Homo sapiens: one gene and its partner. The protein of the gene in region 1 purifies or fractionates together with the protein of each later gene. This does not show direct contact. Each region holds a gene or a part of one and is shown on either strand. Other genes may lie near its edges. The genes, in order: BMPR2 and BMP7.

Region 1 (7,291 bases):
CAGAGTCTAGTAAAAAAGTACAAGTAAGAGAAGATAGTGGCTTTTAGATTAAGGTAGTAGCACAGTGGAGGTGGTAAGAAGCAATAAGATTCTAGATATATTTTGAAGGTAAAGCCAAGAGTTTTTGCTATCAGATTGGATAAGAATGTGAAAAAAAGAAAGAGAAGAGACAAAGATATCTCTAATTTGGGGCCTGAACAACTGGAAGGATAGAACTGACATTTGCTGAATAGGCTAAGACATAGGAGGAACAGGTCTGGTGAAGCAGCTTCAGAAGTTCAGTTTTGGACAGGTTAAGTTTGTGATGAATATCAGACATCCAAGTAGATACGACAGATACACAGTTGGCTACATGCAACAGAATTTCAAGGAAAGAAGTCTGAGATAGAAATAAATTTGAAACTTGTACGCCTTTAGATGCTATTTAAAGCCATAAAACTGGATGAGATCACCAAGAGGGTGGGTGCAGACAGAGAAAAGGTCTAAAGACTGAATCCTGAAACACAACATTTAGCCATCAGGGACATAAGGAGGAACTATCAAAGTTGCTGGTGAGGTAGGAGAAAAATCAAGAGAGAATAGTATCTTAAAAGCCAAATGAAGAAAGTACTTGAAGGATGAAAAAAAAGGATTAAATTGGCTCATGCTACAGATAGGTCAAAACAAGAACTTGGAAATAAATCAAACAACAAGCAGGACATACGCACAGAAGTATTAAATATGGCATTGTTTATTAGAGAAGAAAATCGGAAACAACCTAAACATCTCCCAATATGAATTAAGTAAATAACAAATACACTCAATGGAATATCACACAATTATGAAAAAATGATAGTTATTAAGATCACATATACATGACTATATTATTCTATGTAAAAAAAACAGATATAATTAATAGATATTATAAAATCACAACCATATAAAAATACATGCTTTTTTTTTTTTTTTTGCCAGGCGTGGTGGCTCACGCCTGTAATCCCAGCACTTTGGGAGGCTGAGGCGGGCAGATCACGAGGTCAGGAGTTCGAGACCAGCCTGGCCAACACAGTGAAACTCCGTGTCTACTAAAAATACAAAAACTAGCCGGACATGGTGGCGCACACCTGTAGTCCCAGCTACTCGGGCGGCTGAGGCAGGAGAATCGCTTGAACCCAGGAGGTGGAGGTTGTCGTGAGCCGAGATCACGCCACTGTACTCCCACCTGGGCAACAAAGCGAGACTCCGTCTCAAAAAAAAAAAAAAAAAAAAAAGCATCTTTTTTTTAATTAGAAGAAAACATACCAAAACAAAAAGTGTTAGGGTTGTGTGAAGATTAATATTTTTTCTCTTAATTTTTCAAATGAAAACAAAAAAAAAAGCTTGCCCTAAAAGGTTAGCCTGGTGTGTCTACTACAATTACATAGATTTGCTCACAGACTATTCTTATTTACAAAAGCAAAGACTGAACACAGATTAATAATAATAGAAAGTCTTAACTATTTCCTCATCTAAATGAAACAAAAAACTGAAGAATTTGGATTACTGGCCAAATATTTATACATCCCTTCACACTTATCATTAACACATTTTGTTCTAAATTTTCCTATTTTGCACTAAACTTACTGGGGCAGAATGAAAGTACATGATCATGTACATTTTTGACACCAATTATAAGGGCAAACTACTGTCTTGAAGGAGAAAGGGGAAGTGAGATCTGGTTTTAAGAAACTGAAATTTCTTGGCCAGGTGCGGTGGCTCACGTCTGTAATCCCAGCACTCTGGGAGGCTGAGGCAGGCAGATTACCTGAGGTCGGGAGTTCGAGACCAGCCTGACCAGCATGGAGAAACCCCGTCTCTACTACAAATACAAAATTAGCTGGGTGTGGTAGTGCATGCCTGTAATCCCAGCTACTCAGGAGGCTGAGGCACAAGAATCACTTGTACCCGGGAGGTGAAGGTTGCAGTGAGCAGAGATCTTGCCATTGAACTCCAGCCTGGGCAACAAGAGCAAAACTCCGTCGAAAGAAAGAAAGAAAGAAAGAAAAGAAAGAAAAGAAAGAAAAAGAAAGAAAGAAAGAAAGAAAGAAAGAAAGAAAGAAAGAGAAAGAAAGAAAGAAAGAAACTGAAATTTCTCAACCTCCATTTGCATCTAACCTTCCAGAAAGAGATGTGGATCAAATACCTAACTGTCCCAAATACCTAACTCCATCTAAAATTCTTAGGCCAATGCCTCTGGCACAATACTTTATCATGTCTCATAATTTTTCCACCAAGTCCACCGTCGACACATTTAAGACGTGAATGATTGCACACATTTTGCACTATATCTTGATAATTTGGGTAATGTATTTTAAACGTTACTGATGCACAAGGCAGGGTTAAGGTACAGTGTTGGGCATTGTGATTCTAGGCATGCATATAATCTTTCATATCAGTGTTTTTTTGTTTTGTTTTGTTTTTTGAGATGGAGTTTCACTCTTTTGCCAAGGCTGGAGTAAAGTGGCACAATCTTGGCTCACTGCAACCTCTGCCTACTGGGTTCAAGTGATTCTCCTGCCTCAGCCTCCCAAGTAGCTGGGATTATAGGCGCCCGCCACCACGCCCGGGTAATTTTTGTATTTTTAGTAGAGATGGGGTTTCACCATGTTGGCCAGGCTGGTCTCAAACTCCTAACGTCAGTTGATCCACCAGCCTCGGCCTCCCAAAGTGCTAGGATTACAGGTATGAGCCACCAGGCCCAGCCAATATTAGTGCTTTTGAAAATAGTAATTTTTTTTTTTTTGAGATGGAGTCTCGCCCTGTCACCCAGGCTGGAGTGCAGTGGTACGATCTCGGCTCACTGCAACCTCCGCCTCCCAGGTTCAAGTGATTCTCCTACCTCAGCTTCCTGAGTAGCTAGGATTACAGGCATGCACCACCACGCGTGGCTAATTTTGTTTTTTTCTTTTTTTTTTTTTTTTGACAGAGTTTCGCTCTTGTTGCCCAGGCTGGAGTGCAAAGGCACAACCTCGGCTCACCACAACCTCCGCTTCCCAGGTTCAAGCGATGCCTCAGCCTCCCGAGTAGCTGGGATTACAGGCATGTGCCACCACACCCGGCTAATTTTGTATTTTTAGTAGAGACAGGGTTTCACCACGTTGGCCGGGTTGGTCTCGAACTCCTGACTTCAGGTGATCAGCCCACCTTGGCCTCCCAAAGTGCTGGGATTACAAGCGTGAGCCATGGCAACTGGCCTAATTTTGTATTTTAGTAGAGACGGGGTTTCACCACGTTAGTCAGGCTGGTCTCAAACTCCTGACCTCAGGTTATCAGCCCGCCTTGGCTTCCCAAAGTGCTGGGATTATAGGTGTGAGCCACAGCTCCCAGCCAAATTTTTGTATTTTTTGTACAGCAGGGCTGGTCTCGAAATCCTGACCTCAAGTGATCCGCCTGCCTTGGCCTCCCCAAGTGCCAGGATTACAGAGTAAGCCACTTCGCCCAGGCCACACTGCAAATTTTTAAAAGGAAAAGATTTTGGGTAATTGCTTAATGCACAAATTAAGAAATGTTTGTTCCTAATGTTTACCAGATTAAGCAATAAAAGATATAGATTAAGTAGTAATTACCACAAAAAGTAGAAATAAAGTTATAGAACTTGAGAGTTAGAAAGAATCTTAGATCCAGTAGTTCTCAAAGGTACCTAAAATTTACTGGCTGATGAGGGCATCAAAGGCAGATTCCCAGGCTCGTTGTCCAGAGATTTGGATTCAGTAGGTCTAGTGGGGTACCCATGAATCTGTATTTCAAAATGATCAAGTACAACCCCATATTATTACAAGTAAGAAAACTATGTTAAGTAACCTATTTGCCCGGAATCATATAGAATCTAGGTCTCATTAACTCCCAACAGTGGTCTTCCCACTATACCTCTTAAACTACATACTTTATAGTTGAAGGAACTAGGACAAAGAAAAAGTTATTGGTGTGTTATTTGAGTCAATAAACAACCCTAGAATATTCCTGGTTGAAATTCCTATTTATTATTCATTCACTAAGTATTTCTTAAATGTCTACTAAATTATAAAACTAATCAGACATGAATACTGTCCTCTGGAAGCAATTATCAGTAGGAAGGACAAGGCAAATACATAAAACTGATACCTGGTCAGGTGCGGTAGCTCACACCTGTAATCCCAACACTTTGGGAGGCCAAGGTGGGTGGATCAGCTGAGGTAAGGAGTTTGAGACCAGCCTGGCCAACATGGTGAAACCCCATCTCTACTAAAAATAAAAAAATTTCGGGTGTGGTGGCTCACACCTGTAATCCCAGCACTTTGGGAGGCCAGGGCAGGTGGATCACAAGATCAGGAGTTCGAGACCGGCCTGGCTAGCATAGTGAAACCCCATCTCTACTAAAAATACAAAAATTAACCAGGCATGATGGTGCACACCTATAATCCCAGCTACTCGGGAGGCTGAGGCAGGAGAATGGCTTGAACCTGGGAGGTGGAGGTTGTAATGAGTCGAGATCGTGCCACTCCACTCCAGGCTGTGTGACAGAGCAAGACTCCATCTCAAAAAAAAAAAAAAAAAAACAAAAACAAAAACTGATATCCAGCAGCACAGCAATCTATGAGTAGGTGCCAAAATAAGTGGTGTGGCCAATTATAAAATTAACTGATTCACACAGATTCCACTCAGTATTTTTTTAATGGTTAGAATTTACCCATTAGAGATCAATATTCAATTTCTTCTCTTTTTGTTAAAAAAAAAACTGGCCTTTAATGAAGGAAAGGTTTTGTCTTGTGTGAACAGTTATCTCTCACCTCACTACTCATCCACATCAATACCACTACTATCACATCATCCCACATGCCAGAATAGCTTTTGTAGAGACCAAAGTTTATATCATTTTAATGCAAAAAACTAATTAAGAGGTTGGCCCTCTTCAAAGGGTAAGAAAAGCCTCCCTTCTGGACCATCTTACTGGTTATATGTGGTCTACTGAGAATTTCAATTCTTCGTTCTTCTGCAATAGTACTATATATCCAAATATTACATTAGCCTCATCACAGGCAAAGTGTACTTTGATACCTCTTGTTTCTGAGCTTAGCCTAGCCATATGACTCGGTCAGCCAATGGGATGTTAGGAGAGCAGAGTCTGGAAATGTGCTGGTAGGGTTGGGCTTGGCCTCTTGCACTTCTGCCAATGCCATGACACAAGCCTCCCCCAGATAGATGTTACTTCTCCCTCTAGCCTGGACCCCAGAAAGAGACACATGGAGCAGAATAAATGCCTATTGTTGCATGCCACTAAGATTTTGTGGTTGCCAATAATTACACAGCAAAATGTCACTGAATCACCATATTTAAGAAATCCAGCCCAGGCGTGGTGGCTCATGCCTATAATCCCAGCACTTTCGGAGGCAGAGGCAGGCAGATCACGAGGTCAGGAGTTTGAGATCAGCCTGGCCAATATGGTAAAACCACGTCTCTACTAAAAATACAAAAATTAGCCGGGTGTGGTGGTGCACACCTGTAGTCCCAGCTACTTGGGAGGCTGAGGCAGAAGAATCACTTGAACCCGGGAGGCAGAGGTTGCAGTGAGCTGAGATGGCGCCACTGCACTCCAGTCTGGGTGACCGAGCCAGACTCTGTCTCAAAAAAAAAAAAAAAAAAAAAAAAAAAGAAAGAAAGAAATCCAGGGCCAGGGCCAGGGCCAGGGCCAGGGCCAGGGCCAGGCACAGTGGCCCACACCTATAATCCCAGCATTTTGGGAGGCCGAGGCGGGCAGATCACCTGAGATCAGGAGTTCAAGACCAGCCTGACCAACATGGAGAAACCCTGTCTCTACTAACAATACAAAATTAGCCAGGAGTGGTGGCACATGCCTGTAATCCCAGCTACCCGAGAGGCTGAGGCAGAATTGCTTGAACCCGGGAGGTGGAGGTTGCAGTGAGCCGAGATCACACCATTGCACTCCAGCCTGGGCAACAAGAGCAAAACTCAAAAAAAAAAAAAAAAAGAAAGAAATCCAAACAATCAGGACTGATGATATAAAGCAGTGCTTCTCAAGCACCTGCTTGAGTGAGACTTTGCGGGGGTTCTCCCAGAGAGATTCATTCAGTACATCTGGACTATAGGGCCAAAAATATGCATTTTTATCAAGAACCCCAGGTAATTCTGTTGCAGTACCCACACTTTGAGAAAAACTAAAATGAAGATTACTAAACTTCAGTTACTCAGTAATATTCACTAACATTAGATTAATCTTACTTTATATAATGTGTGTGTTCCTCAAGAGATGTATGTAAAATTGCAATCTAATCAAGTGAATTATTTAAAACGCATTACAGAAGTTGACCTTTAAATAATAGCTGTGTTGTATTCTTTTATTAAGAATTCATTCATAAACCAAGCCAGCACATCTTATTTTTCATAAGTTGTTTTTTTTTTTGGGGGGGGCATAGAAAATGTTCTAAGAATTAGGCGGGGTGTGGTGGCTCATGCCTGTAATCCCAGCACTTTGGGAGGCCGAGGCAGGTGGATCACGAGGTCAGGAGTTCGAAACCACCCTGCCAAAATGGTGAAACCCCGTCTCCACTAAAAATACAAAAAATAAAAATAAATTAGCTGGGCATGGTGGTGGGCTCCCGTAATCTCAGCTAGTCTGGAGGCTGAGGCAGGAGAACCACTTGCGCCTGGGAGGCGGAAGTTGTGGTGAGCCAGGGTCGTGCCACTGCACTCCAGCCTGGGCGACAGAGTGATACTCTGTCTGAACAAAAAAGAAAGAAAGAAAGAAAGAAAGAAAGAAAATGTTCTAAGAATTAAGGAGTCCAAGAACTCAATAAGTGAGAAAGAGGGAATCAAAAGAAATGATTTATCCATGACCCCGAAAAAGGATGTGCTATCAATCAGTCTTCTAGGATTTATTTTCCTGTTCAGCTGCACCATTTGCGCCTGTCGAGTTAACATCACTGCATCTGTGTAACCCAAATCCACACAGGCCCTCTCTAATCAGCTTGCACTTAATGAAGCTGCACTAGCCACTTCAATATTAGGCCAAGCAAAGTTTTACATGTTCAGAACTACGACATTTGCATAACCACTGCTGCACTAACACCTTGTAAGTGTCCCTGCTTCTTTACAAAGGTTGATCTGGTGAAGGCTAATTACTCCATCTCATATATCCAATAAGATGAGAAGTTGTTGCTGCTAGTGCTGCTGTTACCATTAATGTGGTATGTGAGGGCGCACACTATAATCCTGGCTCCATAATTTACTGACTGTGTGGTGAGTTATTCAAATTCTCTGTACTTTACTCTCCCTCTAT
Region 2 (4,680 bases), on another chromosome or scaffold:
ATTTCAGTGAGGGGCACAGTGATCAGAAGCTGGCCAGCAGGATAATGGGATGGAGAGATGAGTGGGGACCCATGGGGCCATTTCAAGTTAAATTTCAGTGGGGTCACCAGGAAGATTCCATGTGATAATGAGATTAACGTGCCCAGCACGTGGCGACACTCAGTAGGTGTTATTCCTGCTCTGCCAACAGCAACCATAGTGATAAGAGCTGTAGGGATTTTGTTCTTTTGCTTAGAATCCAAGGTTCAAGGACCTTGGTTATGTAGCTCCCTGTCATGAACATCATCTGAGCCTTTCCTGCCTACTGATCATCCACCCTGCCTTGAATGCTTCTAGTGACAGAGAGCTCACTACCAGGACTACTCCCTCCTTTCATTTAGTAATCTGCCTCCTTCTTTTCTTGTCCCTGTCCTGTGTGTTAAGTCCTGGAGAAAAATCTCATCTATCCCTTTCATTTGATTCTGCTCTTTGAGGGCAGGGGTTTTTGTTTCTTTGTTTGTTTTTTTAAGTGTTGGTTTTCCAAAGCCCTTGCTCCCCTCCTCAATTGTAAACTTCAAAGCCCTACTTGGGATTGAAGGTCCTTAGGCTGGAAACAGAAGAGTCCTCCCCAACCTGTTCCCTGGCCTGGATGTGCTGTGCTGTGCCAGTATCCCCTGGAAGGTGCCAGGCATGTCTCCCCGGCTGCCAGGGGACACATCTCTATCCTTCTCCAACCCCTGCCTTCATGGCCCATGGAACAGGAGTGCCATCGCCCTGTGTGCACCTACTTCCATCAGTATTTCACCAGAGATCTGCAGGATCAAAGTGAATTCTCCAGGGATTGTGAAATGATGCGATTGTGGTCATGTTTAAAAGGGGGCAACTGTCTTCTAGAGAGTCCTGATGAAATGCTTCCAGAGGAAATGAGCTGATGGCTGGAATTTGCTTTAAAATCATTCAAGGTGGAGCAGGTGGGGAAGGGTATGGATGTGTAAGAGTTTGAAATTGTCCATCATAAAATGTGTAAAAAGCATGCTGGCCTATGTCAGCAGTCACAGCCTGGAGGCTGTGAACAGAGTGCCAGTCACTGATGCTCTTGCCTGGCACCTACAGTTGCTGGAAACCCAGAAGTTTCACGTTGAAAACAACAGGACAGTGGAATCTCTGGCCTGTCTTGAACACGTGGCAGATCTGCTAACACTGATCTTGGTTGGCTGCCGTCAGCTTAGGTTGAGTGGCGGCCTCTTCCCTTAGTTTGCCTTAGTCCCCACTATTCCCTATTGTCTTACCTCGGTCTATTTTGCTTATCAGTGGCACTCACGTGGCACTCATAGGCATTTGAGTCTATGTGTCCCTGTCCCACATCCTCTGTAAGGTGCAGAGAAGTCCATGAGCAAGATGGAGCACTTCTAGTGGGTCCAAGTCAGGGACACTATTCAGCAATCTACAGTGCACAGGGCAGTTCCCCAACAGAGAATTACCTGGTCCTGAATGTCGGATCTGGCCCCTTCCTTCCCCACTGTATAATGTGAAAACCTCTATGCTTTGGTTCCCTTGTCTGCAAAACAGGGATAATCCCAGAACTGAGTTGTCCATGTAAAGTGCTTAGAACAGGGAGTGCTTGGCTTGGGGAGTGTCACCTGCAGTCATTCATTATGCCCAGACAGGATGTTTCTTTATAGAAACGTGGAGGCCAGTTAGAACGACTCACCGCTTCTCACCACTGCCCATGTTTTGGTGTGTGTTTCAGGTCCACTTCATCAACCCGGAAACGGTGCCCAAGCCCTGCTGTGCGCCCACGCAGCTCAATGCCATCTCCGTCCTCTACTTCGATGACAGCTCCAACGTCATCCTGAAGAAATACAGAAACATGGTGGTCCGGGCCTGTGGCTGCCACTAGCTCCTCCGAGAATTCAGACCCTTTGGGGCCAAGTTTTTCTGGATCCTCCATTGCTCGCCTTGGCCAGGAACCAGCAGACCAACTGCCTTTTGTGAGACCTTCCCCTCCCTATCCCCAACTTTAAAGGTGTGAGAGTATTAGGAAACATGAGCAGCATATGGCTTTTGATCAGTTTTTCAGTGGCAGCATCCAATGAACAAGATCCTACAAGCTGTGCAGGCAAAACCTAGCAGGAAAAAAAAACAACGCATAAAGAAAAATGGCCGGGCCAGGTCATTGGCTGGGAAGTCTCAGCCATGCACGGACTCGTTTCCAGAGGTAATTATGAGCGCCTACCAGCCAGGCCACCCAGCCGTGGGAGGAAGGGGGCGTGGCAAGGGGTGGGCACATTGGTGTCTGTGCGAAAGGAAAATTGACCCGGAAGTTCCTGTAATAAATGTCACAATAAAACGAATGAATGAAAATGGTTAGGACGTTACAGATATATTTTCCTAAACAATTTATCCCCATTTCTCGGTTTATCCTGATGCGTAAACAGAAGCTGTGTCAAGTGGAGGGCGGGGAGGTCCCTCTCCATTCCCTACAGTTTTCATCCTGAGGCTTGCAGAGGCCCAGTGTTTACCGAGGTTTGCCCAAATCCAAGATCTAGTGGGAGGGGAAAGAGCAAATGTCTGCTCCGAGGAGGGCGGTGTGTTGATCTTTGGAGGAAAAATATGTTCTGTTGTTCAGCTGGATTTGCCGTGGCAGAAATGAAACTAGGTGTGTGAAATACCCGCAGACATTTGGGATTGGCTTTTCACCTCGCCCCAGTGGTAGTAAATCCATGTGAAATTGCAGAGGGGACAAGGACAGCAAGTAGGATGGAACTTGCAACTCAACCCTGTTGTTAAGAAGCACCAATGGGCCGGGCACAGTAGCTCCCACCTGTAATCCCAGCACTTTGGGAGGCTGAGGTGGGCGGATCATTTGAGGTCAGGAGTTCGAGACCAGCCTGGCCAACATGGTGAAACCCCATCTCTACTAAAAATACAAAAATTAGCCGGGCATGGTGGCACGCACCTGTAATCCCAGCTACTCTGGAGGCTGAGGCAGGAGAATTGCTTGAACCCCAGAGGTGGAGGTTGCAGTGAGCCAAGATCGTCCCACTGCACTCCAGCTTGGGTGACAAAACAAGACTCCATCTCAAAAGAAAAAAAAAACAGCACCAATGAAGCCTAGTTCTCCACGGGAGTGGGGTGAGCAGGAGCACTGCACATCGCCCCAGTGGACCCTCTGGTCTTTGTCTGCAGTGGCATTCCAAGGCTGGGCCCTGGCAAGGGCACCCGTGGCTGTCTCTTCATTTGCAGACCCTGATCAGAAGTCTCTGCAAACAAATTTGCTCCTTGAATTAAGGGGGAGATGGCATAATAGGAGGTCTGATGGGTGCAGGATGTGCTGGACTTACATTGCAAATAGAAGCCTTGTTGAGGGTGACATCCTAACCAAGTGTCCCGATTTGGAGGTGGCATTTCTGACGTGGCTCTTGGTGTAAGCCTGCCTTGCCTTGGCTGGTGAGTCCCATAAATAGTATGCACTCAGCCTCCGGCCACAAACACAAGGCCTAGGGGAGGGCTAGACTGTCTGCAAACGTTTTCTGCATCTGTAAAGAAAACAAGGTGATCGAAAACTGTGGCCATGTGGAACCCGGTCTTGTGGGGGACTGTTTCTCCATCTTGACTCAGACAGTTCCTGGAAACACCGGGGCTCTGTTTTTATTTTCTTTGATGTTTTTCTTCTTTAGTAGCTTGGGCTGCAGCCTCCACTCTCTAGTCACTGGGGAGGAGTATTTTTTGTTATGTTTGGTTTCATTTGCTGGCAGAGCTGGGGCTTTTTGTGTGATCCCTCTTGGTGTGAGTTTTCTGACCCAACCAGCCTCTGGTTAGCATCATTTGTACATTTAAACCTGTAAATAGTTGTTACAAAGCAAAGAGATTATTTATTTCCATCCAAAGCTCTTTTGAACACCCCCCCCCCTTTAATCCCTCGTTCAGGACGATGAGCTTGCTTTCCTTCAACCTGTTTGTTTTCTTATTTAAGACTATTTATTAATGGTTGGACCAATGTACTCACAGCTGTTGCGTCGAGCAGTCCTTAGTGAAAATTCTGTATAAATAGACAAAATGAAAAGGGTTTGACCTTGCAATAAAAGGAGACGTTTGGTTCTGGCTCTTTGGCCTGTGTCTGTCTGTGTGTGTTGTGTTTTTCTCTCAGTTCTTGGACACTGAAGTTCTCTCACACTGCTAAGAGCTCCCTGCCTTCGTCTCCACCGTGAACGCTCTGTTTAGCATCCAGGCCTTGCGGGGAAGTGGCCGCTCGTCAATATTTGGTGCAGCTGTGTGGGGCTCCGGGCAGGAGAGATGGAACCAAGCAACACATGTGAATTTGGTAGGCTCGACTACAAAGGTCCTTGATTGAATTACAGTGCAGCTGTCAGCAGCTGTTTCAAAGAGGCAGGGGGTAAATTAGCTGTGTTTACTGCTAACATAGTTGAAAGATTTAGTCATCCCAATAAAATAGAGGCACCACAGAGAGAAAAAGGGCAGGAGGTGCACGCCCAAAACTTTAAAGCGGTGCCGGCCCCAGAGCTGACACTGTCCAGTGCAAATGATTGGGGCAGTTGCTGGAGCGCGACTGTGGACGTGGATGGCCCCCAGCAGGCCTGGCGAAGGCGGCCAGGGCCCAGTGTCTCGCCGAGCATGGAGCAGCACTTGGCTGCGTAGCGTGGAGCAGCAGTTTGGACGCCTTTCCTCTTTGAAGTGCAC

The links.
Region 2: the proteins of BMPR2 (region 1) and BMP7 purify together in Homo sapiens (affinity purification with western blotting; 2 studies listed by BioGRID). This does not show direct contact.

What each region holds. Positions count from the first base shown.
Region 1 is NC_000002.12:202,379,321-202,386,611, reverse strand, and holds part of BMPR2 (bone morphogenetic protein receptor type-2 precursor), read right to left. Parts: intron 1-7,291. UniProt on the Homo sapiens protein: On ligand binding, forms a receptor complex consisting of two type II and two type I transmembrane serine/threonine kinases.
Region 2 is NC_000020.11:57,168,158-57,172,837, reverse strand, and holds the end of BMP7 (bone morphogenetic protein 7 preproprotein), read left to right. Parts: intron 1-1,729; coding exon 1,730-1,879; 3' UTR 1,880-4,085; downstream 4,086-4,680. UniProt on the Homo sapiens protein: Growth factor of the TGF-beta superfamily that plays important role in various biological processes, including embryogenesis, hematopoiesis, neurogenesis and skeletal morphogenesis.